Linked DNA regions of Homo sapiens: region 2 is linked to region 1. The links come from fine-mapping of genetic effects on gene expression. Tissue or cell type: whole blood. Region 1 holds a variant in brackets; the other region holds the start of a gene. All regions are shown on one strand. Distances are from middle to middle.

The links. PIP is the estimated chance that this variant, and not a neighbour inherited with it, causes the effect.
Region 2: MYEF2 starts here. The variant in region 1 is fine-mapped to the expression of MYEF2 in whole blood (INTERVAL, PIP 0.93).

What each region holds. Positions count from the first base shown.
Region 1 is chr15:48,358,377-48,366,485 of GRCh38, reverse strand. No RefSeq gene overlaps it. Among named protein-coding and RNA genes, the nearest start is that of DUT-AS1, 31 kb to the right of the region's middle. The variant G/A (reference allele first, on the strand shown) is at 5,057.
Region 2 is chr15:48,173,485-48,181,593 of GRCh38, reverse strand. It overlaps MYEF2 (myelin expression factor 2), which reads left to right and starts at 3,299. Exons shown (of 17, transcript NM_016132.5): 1 at 3,299-3,517. The coding sequence starts at 3,357. It also overlaps a transcript of CTXN2 not described here. RefSeq lists silencers at 3,058-3,157, 3,328-3,757, 3,788-3,957 and an enhancer at 2,704-3,355.

The DNA.
Region 1 (8,109 bases):
CTGTCTTTAAAACTTATGACGCCTGGGCAACTGACCCTATCTCTAGGGTATTGCTTTTTCATTATCTGGGTGTGGTGGCATATGCTTGTAGTCTCAGCTACCCAGGAGACTGAGGTGGGAGGATCACTTGAGCACAGGAGGTAGAGGCTTCGATGAGCTATGATTGTACTATTGCACTTTATCCTGGGTAACAAATTGAGACTCTTGAGTCAAAAAAAAAGGGGGGGAGGGGAAGATAACATTCTGAGAGATATTCCTATTGCACAAGTGAGTAAATTCAAGAGCAGAAAAGTGACAGTGGGTTATGCCAGGTTATATCCTGCAAGCTCAACTGAGGCAAAAATCAGGACCTGGAAATCCTGGCTCCAGGGTGAAGGTTTTACCTTTTGATGCAATTGTTTTGCAGCACCCAAGAGGTCTCAGATTATATCTTCCATATTCATTCATTCATAAAATATATACTGAATGGCTGAGATATGACAGACACTTTGCTAAGTGCTAGAAAAGTCAAGGAAGAATAGGACACAATCGTAGCCATTGAGGGCAATATTTTGTGCAGCAGTCCTCCATTGTGGAACTGCAAAATACTACACCTAAATTCTCCACTGTGGGATTGGGAAAATATAGTTGTTTTTAAAGAAGTATTTTTTATTATAATAATAATTATATTTTTATTTTTATAAAATAAAAATCAAATTTTATATTATAAAATTATATTATAAAATTATAAAAATATAACTATAAAATAAAAATTTTATATTTATATTTATATTTATATTTTTTATTATTATTATAATTATTATTATTTTTGCTATATGAACATACAAGAAGAGACTTACTCTGATCTAGAGAAGTCAAAGAATGCTTCATAGAAAAGATGAAGAATCAGTAGGTGTTTCATAGGAAGAAGACAAGTAGATTCCATGTAATGGAAAGTCTATGCATAGCCTTGAAAACAAGAAAGAGTAGGAATATTTGAAAAATAGCAAACAAAACAAAATCCTTTGTCTGGGTTGTTTTATTAAGGTTAGAAAAGCTACCAAGAGTTAAATCGTGAAAGATCTTGCATGCTTATGGGTTAGAACTCATGCTGTAGGATTGAAGTTCTAAGAACAGATTTTAGCCACAGTAGTCACATGATGGTATTCTGGCTTTACAAAGTAGTTATGATTCAAATTAAACATTGAAAATTAAAGACAAACATTTATATATACTCTCTGGAGAAACCTATTGAAAATGACAGTAAGGGGATTTAAAAAGGTGTAAACTCCCAAGGACAAAGAGAGCTGTAGAGGAGACATCAGACAAAAGTTGACAATTGTATTTTGGAAGATGGAAAGCCAAAAAGAGAGGAGTTGTTGACTGAGTAAAGTGGGGAAAACAACCAAAACCTAAAAGCCTAATAAAACCTAAGAGGAAGCCAAGAAGAAGAAAGATAAGTTGCTCTAAAGAACTTAGGAAAGGTCAGGATTGATAGTTCTTGGTGTTGATGAAGATGACAGGAATGGGTGGAGCCAAAGGCAAAGACTTTGTTGAATGTCTATAAAAGTAAGTTATAGAGTCTTCACCATGCCTCCAGTCAGATGAGCGTCTCTCCTCTTCCCTGGTAGAAGGCAGGATGTTTGCTCTCTGGAGAGGCTGAACCAGCAGGGTTCTGGACTCAGTGATACTGGGGAGTAGGGTAAGAGGCTGGACAGAAACAGAAGGATTAAGTGAAAGTCCACATACTGAAGGGGGACACGTGGAAACCTTCATGCAGCTCCATGAACACAGACATCAAAGCCTATGCTCCCTACAGAGGAGACTGGCAAGTTCTTCTTTGGAGAAAGTGACCAACCCTAAGGAAAACACCTACTAATACTGACATGGCAGTCACCCAACGAAGTGCCTGGCTCCTGCCTATCATTCTACAGTGCAGTCCACCAGTCTGCAAGTCCTACCAAAGCACACAGGGCTTCCAATCAACATTTTATTCCCTGACGCCTAAATGTAGGCAGCCAAAGATCTCCAGATACATTAGGAAACTCTCCAATATGAGAGACAGGTTTTAAAAACAAGAGCAATGACAAATAAATAGAAAACAAAAACATGAAGAAAAGAGGCAATGCAAGAGAAGACTTCAGAAACCCTCCTTTAAGAGTTCCTGCACCTAGATAATAAGATGCTATAAAAATCTCTTAAAAATTAAAATGTTAAAGTAGAAATGTTTTTAAAAATCCACAAAGAATTGGCAGGTAAAATTAAGAATATCTTTTAGAAGGCAGTACAAAAGAAACAAACAAAAAAACCACAATGAGTAAAGATAAGAAAGTAAAATACCCATATCAAGGTATGTCATTGTGAAATTTCAAAATACTAGGAATAAAAAATAAAACTCTTTAAAACTCCAAAGAAACAAATAGTTTCCACATAAAGTTGATTCAAAATGTACTGGACTTCTTAACAGTAACAGTAGAAGCTAAAAAGCAATGTAGAAATGACTTAAAGATCCCAAGGAAAACAATTACTTTCTACCAAGGCTTTACTCCCTGGCCAATCTCTCATTTCACTGTGAAATTAGAATCAAGGTATTGTCAGGTATGTAAAGTGTGGTATACAGTATTTATGCTCCCCAATATCTGGTTCCCCTTTCCTTCCTGGGTGCAAAGAGGACTACACTTCCCAGGCTTCTCCAAGTTAGGCAGGGCCACACGTTCTGATCATGGCTGTGAACAGAAGTGACATAGACTTTCTGGCCAAATAGTTAGACAGGAGTATGAACTCCACGCTTTCTGAAGACGTCTGATGTTGAAATGGTGGAGCCACGAGATTGAAGCAGTTTGCATTACTGGATCACCACATGAAAGATAGTTGCCCTGGAGAGTTACCCAACTTCCAGCCAACTTGGTGTGACCCAGAAAAAGACTTGACATGTTAACCCATTAAGAAGTGAAGCTACATTTTCTTAATCTAGTCTATCATTGTTGGACATTTAGGTTCGTTCCAAGTCTTTGCTATTGTGAATAGTGCCACAATAAACATATGTATGCATGTGTCTTTATAGCAGCATGATTTATAATCCTTTGAGTATATACCCAGTAATGGGATGGCTGGGTCATTAGGAGATATACCTAATGTTAATGACTAGTTAATGGGTGCAGCACACCAACATGGCACATGTATACATATGTAACAAACCTGCACGTTGTGCACATGTACCCTAAAACTTAAAGTATAATAAAAAAAAAAGAAATGAAGCTTATTTTTTTCTGCAGCATAGTCTAGCCTAACCTAATGTATAACCTATCAAAGATATTTCTAACTGTACCATTTCTCAAGAAGTTAATGGCTACCCTATGACCCAGCAATTCCACCTCTAGGTGATATTCCCCAAAAGAAATGAGTGCATGCGTGCAACAAAAGACAGGGACCAGACTGGTTGTAGCAGCTTTATTTATTATATCCAAATACTTTACATTCATACCACATAAAATAGCAAAAACAAACAACAAAATAAACAACTGGTACATGCAACAACATGGATGACTCTCCCAAGCATGATGCAAGAATACCAAACACAAAACAGTACATACTGTATGATGATTTTATATAAAGTTCAAGAACAGGCAAAACTCATTGATGGTGGTAGAAGCCAGAGTAGCGATGACCGTGTTGAAGGTACGGGGTAGGATAGAGGTTACTGATGGGGAAGAGGCATGAGGGAGCCTTGAAGAGTTTGGGAACTATTCAATATCTTGATCTGGATGTCAGTTACGTGAATGTCTGTGTATACAAAAATGCATTGGGCTGAGCACTTAAGTTAGTGCATTTAAGTTTAGCAAACAGTTTGGTACACTTCAATTTAAAAAAATGTTTAGGCCAGGTGCGGTGGCTCACCCCTGTAATCCCAGCACCTTGGGAGGCCAAGGCGGACAGATCACCTGAGGTCAGGAATTCGAGACCAGTGTGGCCACCATGGTGAAACCACGTCTCTACTAAAAATACAAAAATTAGCCAGGCATGGTGGAGGGTGCCTGTAATCCCAGCTACTTGGGAGGCTGAGGCAGGAGAATCACTTGAACCCAGGAGGCAGAAGTTGTAGTGAGCCCAGATTGCACCACGGCACTCCAGCCTGGGTGACAAGAGCAAAACTCCATCTCAAAAAAAAAAAAATAAATAAAATAAAATTTTCAAATGTTTAAAAAGCAGCTGCTGGAGATTGTGCTTTACCAAAGTGAGGAACAAACCCAAACTGGAAAAGCATGGGATACAGGCAATAGGAAATTGCGTGGAGGACACAGATGAAAGGGATTCCTATGAAGACTGAGCTCCAGGATGGCAGTTGCAGAGTAGTCAGGAGTGACAGGAGCTAGAGACAAAGGAATTAAAGTGGGGAAGCATCTAGAAGAAAAAAAATGAAAAGAAAAAGAAACTGATAGATTATCTTAGAGTCCAACTCTATTCAAGGGAGTATCACAATTCTACCAAAGAATTTAGGGAGAAATTCCTAATAAGCATAAAAAACTAAGCAACAACAAAAAATAAGCTATTACTAATGAAAAAAAGAAACCCACAAAAGGTTACATAAACATGTTACCATAGTACACTATATGACTCAGCTTTAAATTTAGCCAGAATATTGTTAGACGATTATGTTGGGAGGATGAGAGGAAGGACAAAGTGGGGGCATGGGAGGAATGCAGCCAGAGGGGTATGGTAAGAAAGCTAAATTCTCATCAGCCCCAGAAGAAAACCAGTAGAAAGTGACTACACTTGAAACGAAATGAAATAACTGCACTTGCATATTATTTAGGAACATGAAAGTAAATCACAAACAGTTGAAAGTGTTTAGACTCAGAGTGGAGAGGGGTAGAGAGAGGACTGATATTTTTATTGTTGTATTGACTTCTACATTACATACATAAAGTATTTCAGCACTATGCTGAAGCAATTTTTAAAATTTCAGAAGACCAGGTGCGGTGGCTCACGCCTGTAATCCCAGCACTTTGGGAGGCCAAGGCAGGCAGATCACAAGGTCAGGAGATCGAGACCATCCTGGCTAATACAGTGAAACTCC[G/A]TCTCTACTAAAAGTACAAAAAAATTTGCCAGGCATGGTGGCAGGCGCCTGTAGTCCCAGCTACTCAGGAGGCTGAGGCAGGAGAATCGCTTGAACCCGGGAGGCTGAGCTTGCAGTGAGCAGAGATCACACCACTGCACTCTAGCCTGGGCAAAAGAGTGAGACTGTCTCAAAAAAAAAAAAAATTTTTCAGAAAACTCTAAGAAATAAAAAATAAAGTGACTCATTTGAAAACACATTTTGATTCCAATTGGTTTTTTGCTGTTGTTGTTTTTGTTTTGCTTTTTTTTTTCTTTTTTTTTTTTTTAAGATGGAATCTCTCCCTGTCCCATAGGCTGGAGTACAGTGGTGTGATCTCAGCCCACTGCAACCTCCCGCCTCCTGGGCTCAAATGATTCTCCTGAGTCAGCCTCCCAAGTAGGTGGGACTACAGGCACATGCTCCAGTTGATTTTTTTAAAAACACATACATAGCACATAGTAAGTTGCATAGAGAGGAATTTGTGGCAGGTTATAAAATCACACTGTAATCCTCTTAGAGATCCAAAAAGCTGGGACATTAAACTCGGTCAGCCACCAGTGCTTACTTCAAAGGAAACAGAGTCATGAGATACAAGTGTAAGTTCTATCAGCTTTCAGCTCCATCACAGCTAATGGCATGATAATATTGTACCAGTTTAGAACTTTTAGGTGTAATCACTTTTTGTTATTATTTCAAATCACAACTGCACAACTTAAATGTGCTTTTAAAAAATTAGGTTCTATTAAAGAAAAAATGATTCCTTTATTTAAACAAGGCAATCTGTACCTACAAGGGGCTACACCTACAACTTCTAGAGGCCTATGAAAACCACCAGTGGAAACCACATGTGGAAAAAAATAGGTGCTGGGCTAGTTAAAATGCTAATACAATTTCAAGTATTACTGTATTTTTTTTCTAAAAAGGAAGACAACACAATAGTGTTTTGAAAACTATAGTATAGGAAAGTATATGTGTTATATGTGTGTGGTATAAATGAAATAAATCTTGATAATACAATTTAAGTCTCCTTGGATTTGGCTCTGAAAAAGAAATACTTAATGACAATGAATAATTAAAGGAAGTTTGAATGACAGGTCTAAGAAAAAATATTTTTTTTTGAGACAGGATCTCATTCTGTCACCCAAGTTGGAGTGCAATGGTGTGATCTCGGTGCACTGCAGCCTCGAACTCCTAGGCTCAATTGATCCTCCCACCTCAACCTCCTGAATGGCTGGGACTATAGGCTACAGGCATGCACCATCATGCCCAGCTAATTTTTGGTAGAGATGGGTTTTCACCATGTTGCTCAGGCTGAAAATCTTAAATTAAGCTTATAGTTCTGTGTTTCAGACATTTTGAGAAAAAATATTCCATACTAGAATGATGAATGTATCTTTTTAGTCCTCAGCTTTTTCTTTGTTACTGCCTATACATCACAGGCTCTTTATTAGAACTATATTTCTAGCCAATGATAAAAAACAAAAAACTACTAGTTGGTGGTACTTTTATCAAATTCCATTTGCTGCAGATATTTAGATTTTTGTTAGCCAAGACTTTCAGAACTACTGCTATGTGATTATAAGAATTTATTCATGACACCTTCAAATCAACACAATCTATTTTCTTCAGATTCTAATTAGTTATCAATATTTCAAAATTAATATTTAGCAGTTGTCAATCTTTAAATGCAAGAGATGTTTACCATGATTTTATTCTCATAATGTCCACATTATTGAAAAATAAACCAAAAGATAAGAGAAAAATGCTAGCAAATGGCTAGCTACCTTAAAAAAAGGAGGTGCATTTGATTGAGACTTTTGATTTTGATGGTTCTTATCTTATAGAATCCATTTCAGAACTAAATAGACCTAGGTATATAAGGATGAGGCAACAAAGATATTTCTTCCATTCTGTGACTTGGAATAGCCATACTCCACTCACATACAATGTGTTTTGGTTTGAAAATATGTTTTCAAAAATATGAATTACTAGACAGAACATGATAAAAGCTCTGTGTCTTCATATAGCTAGGCCAGTTTGAGAAATTATGTAAGTTTAGTAGCAGCAAAATGTTCACCAAGTATTCATTGGTTTAATATTTTTAGTAGCTTATTAAAAAAAGCTATTTCTATTTGTTTATTTGTGATGTTTGGGAAATAAACATGCTGATAATTCTTTCGTAAGATACTTTTTAAGATTGAGACCCCATGAGGTACCGAAAAAAGCATTCACTTCTCTCACACTTGAGGTCACAAATTTTTGCAAGTCAAAAATGTTGGCCATGCCAAAAACATCATGCTGCACACTACCAAATAAAAGAACACTGTTATTCTTACAAGGAAAGGTTTGACAAGACAGGAAATAGGCAGGGTCAGAGAGGTTTACTTAATACGGAGACTCATTTAACCATCATGAAGCCAAAATACAATGACAGTTAAAAAAAATAAACAAATAGCTGTTACACAAAACAAAACCCCAGGATACATGGTCTCTACTGGAACTGATTATTAGAGTTTTAGCAAATACAGGAAGTGGATAACCCCAGAGAACCCTCACAACATTTCTAGACGTCTTCTCCATTTACTTTTGTCACATGCGCTTTACTGAGATAATGAAGATTAAAACAGTTTTGATTTGTGGGTAGAAATTTGAACAAAGAAGGATTGATCTTAAAATGCTGCAAGTAACCTCATTAAAGGGCAATCATTTTAAAAGTCACATTCTCCTAAAAATGGGGAAGGAGGAGGAAGAAAAAAATGAAAGATAGGAAAAATCTAGCTGTTCATTACAATTTTCCATTTTTGTTTAAACACAGCAGGAGGGCAAAGCTGCTGGCTTCTCTGGTCCTTACAAATGCCAGGAGAGATTATACAAACCCTGCAACCACCCAAATCTTATTTAAAGTTAAAATCATTGTTCTCATCTAATGACTTTTGCCTGCTTTCACTCAAATATTGCAGCATTTTGTTTTCTGCCAGCTTGGACCCATTGAGAATTGTAGACTTATAATTGCAGATAAACTATGAAAAAAC
Region 2 (8,109 bases), 180 kb after region 1:
AAAACTTAATTCTTAAAGACAAAATAAATTAAAAAAAAGAAGAATGATGACATCCATTCTCTTCTTCATTGGTAACAGAACCCTGGGCAGTAAGCCCAGCCCCCAAATTATTTGCCAACCTCCCCCACAGATGAGTGTGTCATGTGACTAAGTTCTTGCCCATAAGCGGAAGTGTTGTGTGAGACTTCTGGATAGGTCCCTTTTTTTCTGGACTCCTTCTGACCTACAATGCCGACAAGGTGCCTCGATCTCCAGCAGCCATCTTGGGTCATAGGGCAACCTTAAGAATGGAAGCCTCACACTAGGATGGCGAAAGATTAAGGTAGCAGGAACCTGACTTCACGATGACTGTGAAGCTACTATATATCCTCTGGGATGCTCCTTCTGCATTTATTTTACTTAAGAGAGTAAAAATGTATATCTTGCTTAAGACACTATTATTTCTAGTTATTGTTATTAGCAGATGAACACAATTCCTAAGTGATACATATATTAAGGTATTAATTGAAAATATTTTGTGATTTCTAGGATTAGATTTCTAGATACGTGTAATAGCTTTTCCCCTATCCCGCCAGGTACACACACATAAACATGCATTCTAATTTGTAAGAAAGAAAACTAAGTGATTATGTGAAGTTGTACCAGTAATATATTTTGTGCAATTGCAAAGGATAATGCTTTTGCAATGTGAATCATGGGAAAATAAGAATTTGAGCATCACTTAAGAATTTTTCAATGTACCTACATGCACTAAAAAACAAACAAACAAAAAACAAAAAACCAAGGCCGGGCGCTCTGGCTCACGCCTGTAATCCCAGCAATTTGGGAGGCCAAGGCAGGCAGATCACAGGGTCAGGAGATGGAGACCATCCTGGCTAACACGGTGAAACCTGTTTCTACTAAAAATACAAAAAATTAGCCGGGCCTGCTGGCGGGCGCCTGTAGTCCCAGCTACTCAGGAGGCTGAGGCAGGAGAACGGTATGAACGCGGGAGGTGGAGCTTGCAGTGAGCAGAGATGGCGCCACTGCACTCCAGCCTGGGTGACAGAGCGAGACTCCATCTCAAAAAAGACAAAACAAAACAAAACAAACCAAAACAGTAGAGAGGAAGACAAGCAAATACAGAAATGGAATTCAGCAACAGAATATTAATAGTTTTTTCTTTATCTTTTGCAATTAATAGCAAGAAAGGAAGGAAAGATCAATCTATTGAGCAGTCAGATGGAATGGTAAAGATTAATCATTCTCTTCCCTTCAGAAGTTGCCTTAATTCTTTGTCTTTTAAGATCCAGCTCTTTTATAAGGCCCTCACCAATCTCTCAGTAGGAATTAACCTCTGCTCTTTATCAGGACTAGAACCAAGCTACAGCGGGTGAGGCATTTGTCTTGGGTACAAAAGTTAAAACTCAGTAATCAAGATAAATATTTTAATGGAATATTTTAATTGGCAAACTAAGGCATGTGGGCCAGTCTCCTGTTTTTGTAAATAATTTTTTAATTATACTTTGCTTTTATTTGTATTATAGCACTTAAATAGTACTTTTTACATTAGCCCTCTCCCAACAGGGCTGTACTCATTTTTGTATTCCTCATGTACCTACTACTCTGTTTGAAGCATAAAGGCCTCTTAAAAAAATCTTGCATTGAGTTGATTAAAGGATTTTTGCAAGAATATATTGTACTGGTGATGGTGGGGTTCAATTTTCATACTGAATTCAACAATAGCAAAAGAATAACAGAATGATGACTATTTTGAAAGTACTTATAATTTAGTGCTGTGGGAAAAATCACTTGGCTTGTCTTTGACTAAAACCCTGCTGAGCTTAGGGAGATAGAGAATTGTAATATTACATTATGTTCATATAGCACTTTTTCCTACATAAAGTGCTTTCTTTTAATCCTCACCTCAATCCTGTAAGGTCGGTATTGCTATCCCTATTTATTGTAGAGAGATTGAGAAATGAGGTGACTTGCCCAGGGAGTTATGGGCAAAAAGAGGCAGAGCTGGGGTTCTAACCCAGATTTTGTCTGTCACAATTGAATGCCCTTTCTGCGATTATAAATCTTATGTCTCAGAGTTGAATGAGAAACAATTTATACAGCAACTACAATAGCATTCTTATCATTAAAATGTTCTGATTATGTGTGTGTGTGTTTGTGTATGTGTGTGTGTGTATGTGTGTGTGTGATGAAGTAGCTGAACTTGGTATTTTTCGGTAGAGGGTAGGAAACTACACATTGAAAAGCCGAAGATGAAATTATGTTATTTGAGTATTACTTTCTAACTATAACTTTACCACTGATGTGTGTATGATATTCTGCAAAGTGACTAAACTGTACGTGTTTGCTTCTTCATGGAAAAAAAATTTGGGAAGGCATTTAAACTTTTCAGCTGAAAAAGGTTATGTCAATGTGAAAGATTATAGTACTCGAGAATTAGGAGTTGATTAAATTTAACGGTTTCCTTTTCATACTTAGGGGGAAAAATCTACGACTGTATTTTAAAACTCCATATGGCAATTAAATTTGAGAGCGTATAACTAACTACTTCACTAGAATTTCCATCAGTATACAATAAACACACAGTCAAAACCTCAAATGTCCATTATTAGCCCATCTAGTAGACGATATTTTATAATTATGGATTCCCCATATTGATTGATGTCCAGAGAAAAACTGCAGTCTTCTCTTACTAAGCTGATAGTTGAGTTCCTGGGAAATCCTCACCCCCTAAGAACAAATAATTCTCAAAGAAATTCAAAGTCATTCCTTTTGGTGAATTGCAATCAGTCATCAATAACTATTTATGGAATGTCCGAAGGGTGCCTAGGCATTGAAATGGCAAGAGACTTATATTTGCTTAATTCAAAGGATTTCTAAAGGCAGTCTGAGGACTTGCAAGAAGTCTTTAAAGATGCAAAGTGGTGTGTTCTTTAACTGCCCCTACCTGGAATGAATTGAACAGTCTGGGTGTTAGGGCTTTGATGTCTAATCCCGCTTTGCAAGCGAAGACTCCACTGGTGCCAAGCGACAGGCGGGCTGGTGGGCAGACATGGCACCACCACCGGGGGCTTTCAGGACTGGTCCAGCCCTCCCAGGCAGGTGTAGGGCCGACTGCAGCAACAGCGGCCCTGACCCCAGCTCCCATGGCTCCCCTCCCCCCGCACTCCCACCCCCCGCACCCGGCACACACCATCTCCCAGTCACCCAGTCTCGACCGGTTCTCGCGAGATCCGGGTTACTGAGCGCTCGGGGCCTTTTCAAATCGGGATCCGTTACCGCTTCCCCGGCAGCCGCCATTGTCGCGCTCGGAGCCCCTCAGCTCAGGCGGCCGAGGCGGAGGCAGCGGCGGCGGGATGGCGGACGCCAACAAGGCCGAGGTGCCCGGGGCCACTGGTGGCGACAGCCCGCACCTGCAGCCCGCAGAGCCGCCGGGCGAGCCGCGGCGAGAGCCGCACCCCGCGGAGGCGGAGAAGCAGCAGCCGCAGCACAGCAGCAGCTCCAATGGCGTTAAAATGTATTGTCTTTTCCTCCGGGAACCGGGGCGAGGTGGGGGGCGGGGAGTCTACCGGGCGGCTAGAGGCCGGGCTGTGCCCCGATGGGGGACAACCACCCCCAGACCCCGGCCCGCCCCCGGGCCATCGGCTTCCTGAGGAGCAGGTGCAGCTGGGCCGCTCCCAGGCCCTTCCCCGCCCGCCCCAGGCCTGGCCGCCTGTGGTCTGGGAGCCGGGGCTGGGGGCCCGGGGACCAGCGCTCTTCCCTGATTTCTAGCCCGAGACAGCGAACACCCCTCTTCCCTGACTTTGGTTAAAGAATCTTTGAGCAAAGCTCAGCGACCGCCACGGTTTGCAGGAAAATGGTCCCCCTTTAAGGACCAGTAGTTAGTGTTCATCACTAGGGAGTATCTAGGGATGACATCATCGGACATTTCCTCTTAACCACCGAGAACATATTTAAAAGGAATATTCCTGGCTTCTTTCTGAGCTTCACAAGTTTAGTGTTTTGTTGTTTTCTAAAGTGTATGTTCATTTTTAAACTGATTTATACCGAGAGGAAGTTTAATAATGTGCTGTTAGACTCTATGTTTTGTGTTACTCTTGAATTGGCTAGACGTACTTTAAAAAGGGAAATGTGCGATGTGCGTGGCTTCCCTTCCCACTGGGTAATGTGCGTCAGCTGTGGAGAGTATTTTTTTTTTTAACTCAGTGTATGATTATCTTAAGTTTGGTATAATAGATGGTTAAGATTTTTTTTTTCCCAAATGAAGGAAGACTTTTAAGGTCGCAGCTGTCACCAGTGCCTATAAAGAATTTAGTTGACCCCAATCCATAATAATTTCTGGTTCTAGGGAAATGTTATGCTCTCCTTTGTTCCTGTCCTGTGGGAGGATATGAAGTTAAGCGCTTACTTTCATATGCCTACCTCCTTAAACCTGAAGTTGAAAGTATGTTAATAATTAAGTGAAAACATCCTTTTCCTTCTCTGTTATGCCTCAGAGCAGAAAGCAATAGATATATGCTCACAGTAAAATAGACAAGGGAAAGGTCTTTCTGACCTTTGTATAAGCATGTTTGAAATTGTATGGTAAGAACTGGACCAGTCTGTGTAAAAGTTGGTGGCAAAAAAGATGGGGTAGCTCTCCCCAGCTCTTTGACACTCTTGCTCTCAAATGAGTTTGAACAGGATCGGCAGCATCTTCTAGGAGAATAGAGGTGCAGGTATAAGAGATTGGAACTTAGTGGAGTTTATTCCTGGATGAAGAGTGGTGCACCTCAGTAATTGAGGAACCAGAAAGGGAATGAAGTGCTTTCTACCATGCTTGCCAAAATGTGGGCTTTCTGGAATTTGGCATTAAAAATAGAAATGAAAACCGGTGGAATGATAAACTTAAAAATATGTGCTATTCATATCTAAACACGAGTATACATGCCACCTTTTCTCCTGAACAAAAAGTGCAGCCTTGAATTACAGAGAGAAGCCCTCCTATACTTGGGTATGATTAGTTTTGATATAGGGGAAGTTTGGTATCTAAACCTCCATCAGATTTTCTATTCCCTTCTAAAGTCTCTTCATGATTTAGCAAGACAGGAAAAGAGAAAGGAGAAAGGTGGAGAAAGAATCCTTTTCTAATTTAGGAAGAGAAAAATATAAGGTGAAGAAATGAAGAAATATTACTAGTAAATACAGATTATTTCCATATTGCTTATAATTCGCCTCTCCCTTTCTCTTTTTCCCAGAAGTTGAATCGAGTCCAATTTACTCTCAGGGATTTCTCTTACTGTCTATTCCATAAGAAGATTTGTGATGGTCCAGCATGAGTCATTCAAACTGAATAACTAGCGACCTAGTCCTTTTTTTTTTTTTTTTTTTTTTTACTTCGTGAACTAGTAGGAGTGGATAACAACCCCAATACATAAACCTTGAGTTGATTACCATATACTTTTAATAATAAAAATAATTCATTGTTGATTATAAAAATTACCATAATATTGCCCCAAATTATGTATTGGTTGGAATTGAACAGAGTACTGCTTGTCATCAGGATTGAAATAATATTTGCTGAGGTTAATCCATAGTTATTGAGGGTGGGAGACCACTATGTCTTATTCTTCTTTGTATTCTTAAGGCCTAGTAAATATTTGTGGAAGAAATGCAGAAGTGAACTTTCATGCTTATGAAACTCATATACAGGGAATTTAGTTTGCATATTCACACCTTTAGAAAAGATCCGTTTTCCAACTGTAGTCTTCTTCTTTAACGCCAAATGGTATACTAGCTCTCCTTTTCTTAAAAATGAATAGGAGGGAAAAGAGCAGTATTATTATAACTTTATTATTCATGTGTAATTAAGTATAACTTTGGAGTAGGTAGAGATTGAGAGTTATATTAGGGTACTATAAAATATTAAGCATTGGAGCAAGGTAATGTGTTCTTTAGCTGAGTGATTTTTATTAGGAATAAAGACTAGAACTGTTTCCCCCAGCTTTATTGAGGTAAATTGACAAAAATTGTATATTTTGAAGTGTACAGTGTGATGGTTTGGTATACAAATAAATTGTGAAATGATTACCACAATCACGCTAATTAACGTATCTGTTACCTCGCATAGCTACCATATTTTTTGGTGTTGAAAATACTTAAGATCTATTCTTTAAGCAAATTTCAAGTATACAGTAAATATGTTAAGTATAGTCACTATACTGTACCTTAGATCTACAGAACTTACTCATCTTATAACTGAAAGTTTGTGCCCTTAGAACATTTCCCCATCCCCTGCTGCCCTCCACCTCTGGTAAACACCCTTCTACTCTCTGCTTCTGAGTTTGACTTTTTTAAAAGTCTGTGTGTAAGTGAGATCATGTAGCATTTGTCTTTCTGAGTCTGGCTTTTTTCACATAGCCCAATGTCCTCTAGGTTTATCTCTGTTGTTGCAAATGGCAAGATTTTGTTCTTTTTGTAAGGCTGAATAATAATATTCCAGTGTGGATGTGTTGTGTAAACATAAAATATAATATATATCATGTTTCCTTTAATCATTTATCTGTCAATGGACACTTAAGTCGTTGTTTCCATATCTTGGGTATTGTGGATGATGCAGCGAACATGGGAGTGCAGATATCTCCTTGAGATAGTGATTTCATTTTCATTGGATATATACCCAGAAGTGGCATTGATGAATCATGTGGTAGTTCTGTTTTTAATTTTTTGTGGACCCTTGATGCTGTTTTCCATAATGGCTGTACCAATGTATATTCCCACCAGCAGTATCTAAAGGTTCTTTCTCCACGTCCTCAGCAACAGTTGCTATCTTTTGACTTTTCGATAAGTCATCCTAACAGGTATGAAGTGATATTGCAGTCTGGTTTTGAGTTGTATTTCCCTGATGAACAGTGATATTGAGCACCTTTTCATATACCTTTTGGCCGTTGGTATGTCTTCTTTGGAAAAATTATCTGTTTGGATCCTTTTCTCATTTTTTAAATTGGGTTGCTATTGAGTTGTATGGGTTCCTTATACATTTTTGATATTAATCCCTTATTGGATATATGGTTTGCAAATTTTATCTCTCATTTCTTAGGTTGCCTTTTTATTTTGTTGAGTTTCCTTTGCTGTGCAATAACTTTTTACTTTGATGTAGTCCCAGTTGTTTACTTTTGTTTGTGTTGTCTGTGCTTTTGGTGTCATATCAAAAAAAAAAAAAATCATTGCCAAGGCCAAGGTCATGGAGCTTTTCTCTTGTGTTTTCTTCTAGGAGTTCCATGGTTTTAGGTGTTATAAGTTTTTAATCCATTTTCATTTTGTTTTGTATGTGGATATCTAGTTTTCCCAATACCATTTTTTGAAGAGACTGTCCTTTCACCATTGTATATTTTTGGTGCCTTTGTCAAGGATTAGTTTACCATATATTGGGGATGTGTTTTTGAGTGTTTGTTATGCTCCATTGGTCTGTGTGTCTGTTTTTGTACCAGTACCATATTGTTTTGATTACTATAGATTTGTAATATAACTTGAATCAGGTAGTGTGGTACTTTTAGTTTTTTCTTCTTGTTTAAGCTTGCTTTAGCCATTTGAGATCTTTTATGGTTCATACGGATTTCAGGAATTTTTCCGTTTCTGTGAAAAATGCTGTTAGAATTTTGATAGAGATCACATTGAATTTATAGGTCATTTTGGGTAGGAAGGACATTTTGACAATATTAATTCCTCTCATCTGTGAACATGGAATATCTTTCATTTGTATTATTTTCAATTTCTTTTATCATTGTTTGATCGTTTTTCAGTGTATAGCTCTTTAGCTTTCTTGGTTAAATTTATTTCTAGGTATTTTATTCTTTCTGATGCTATTTTAAATGAGATTATGTTCTTAATTTTTTGGATAGTTCATTATTATTAGTGTGTAGATATGCAGTGGATTTTTGAATGTTGACTTTGTATTCTATAACTTTACTGAATTTGTTCTAATAGTTTTTTTGGTGTTGTCTTTAAAATTTTCTCTGAATAATTTTCTATATAAGATCACATCTTCTGCAAACAGAGTTAATTTTACTTCTTTCTCTCCAATTTGGTTGCCTTTTATGTCTTTTATTTGCCTAATTGCTCTGGCTGTGA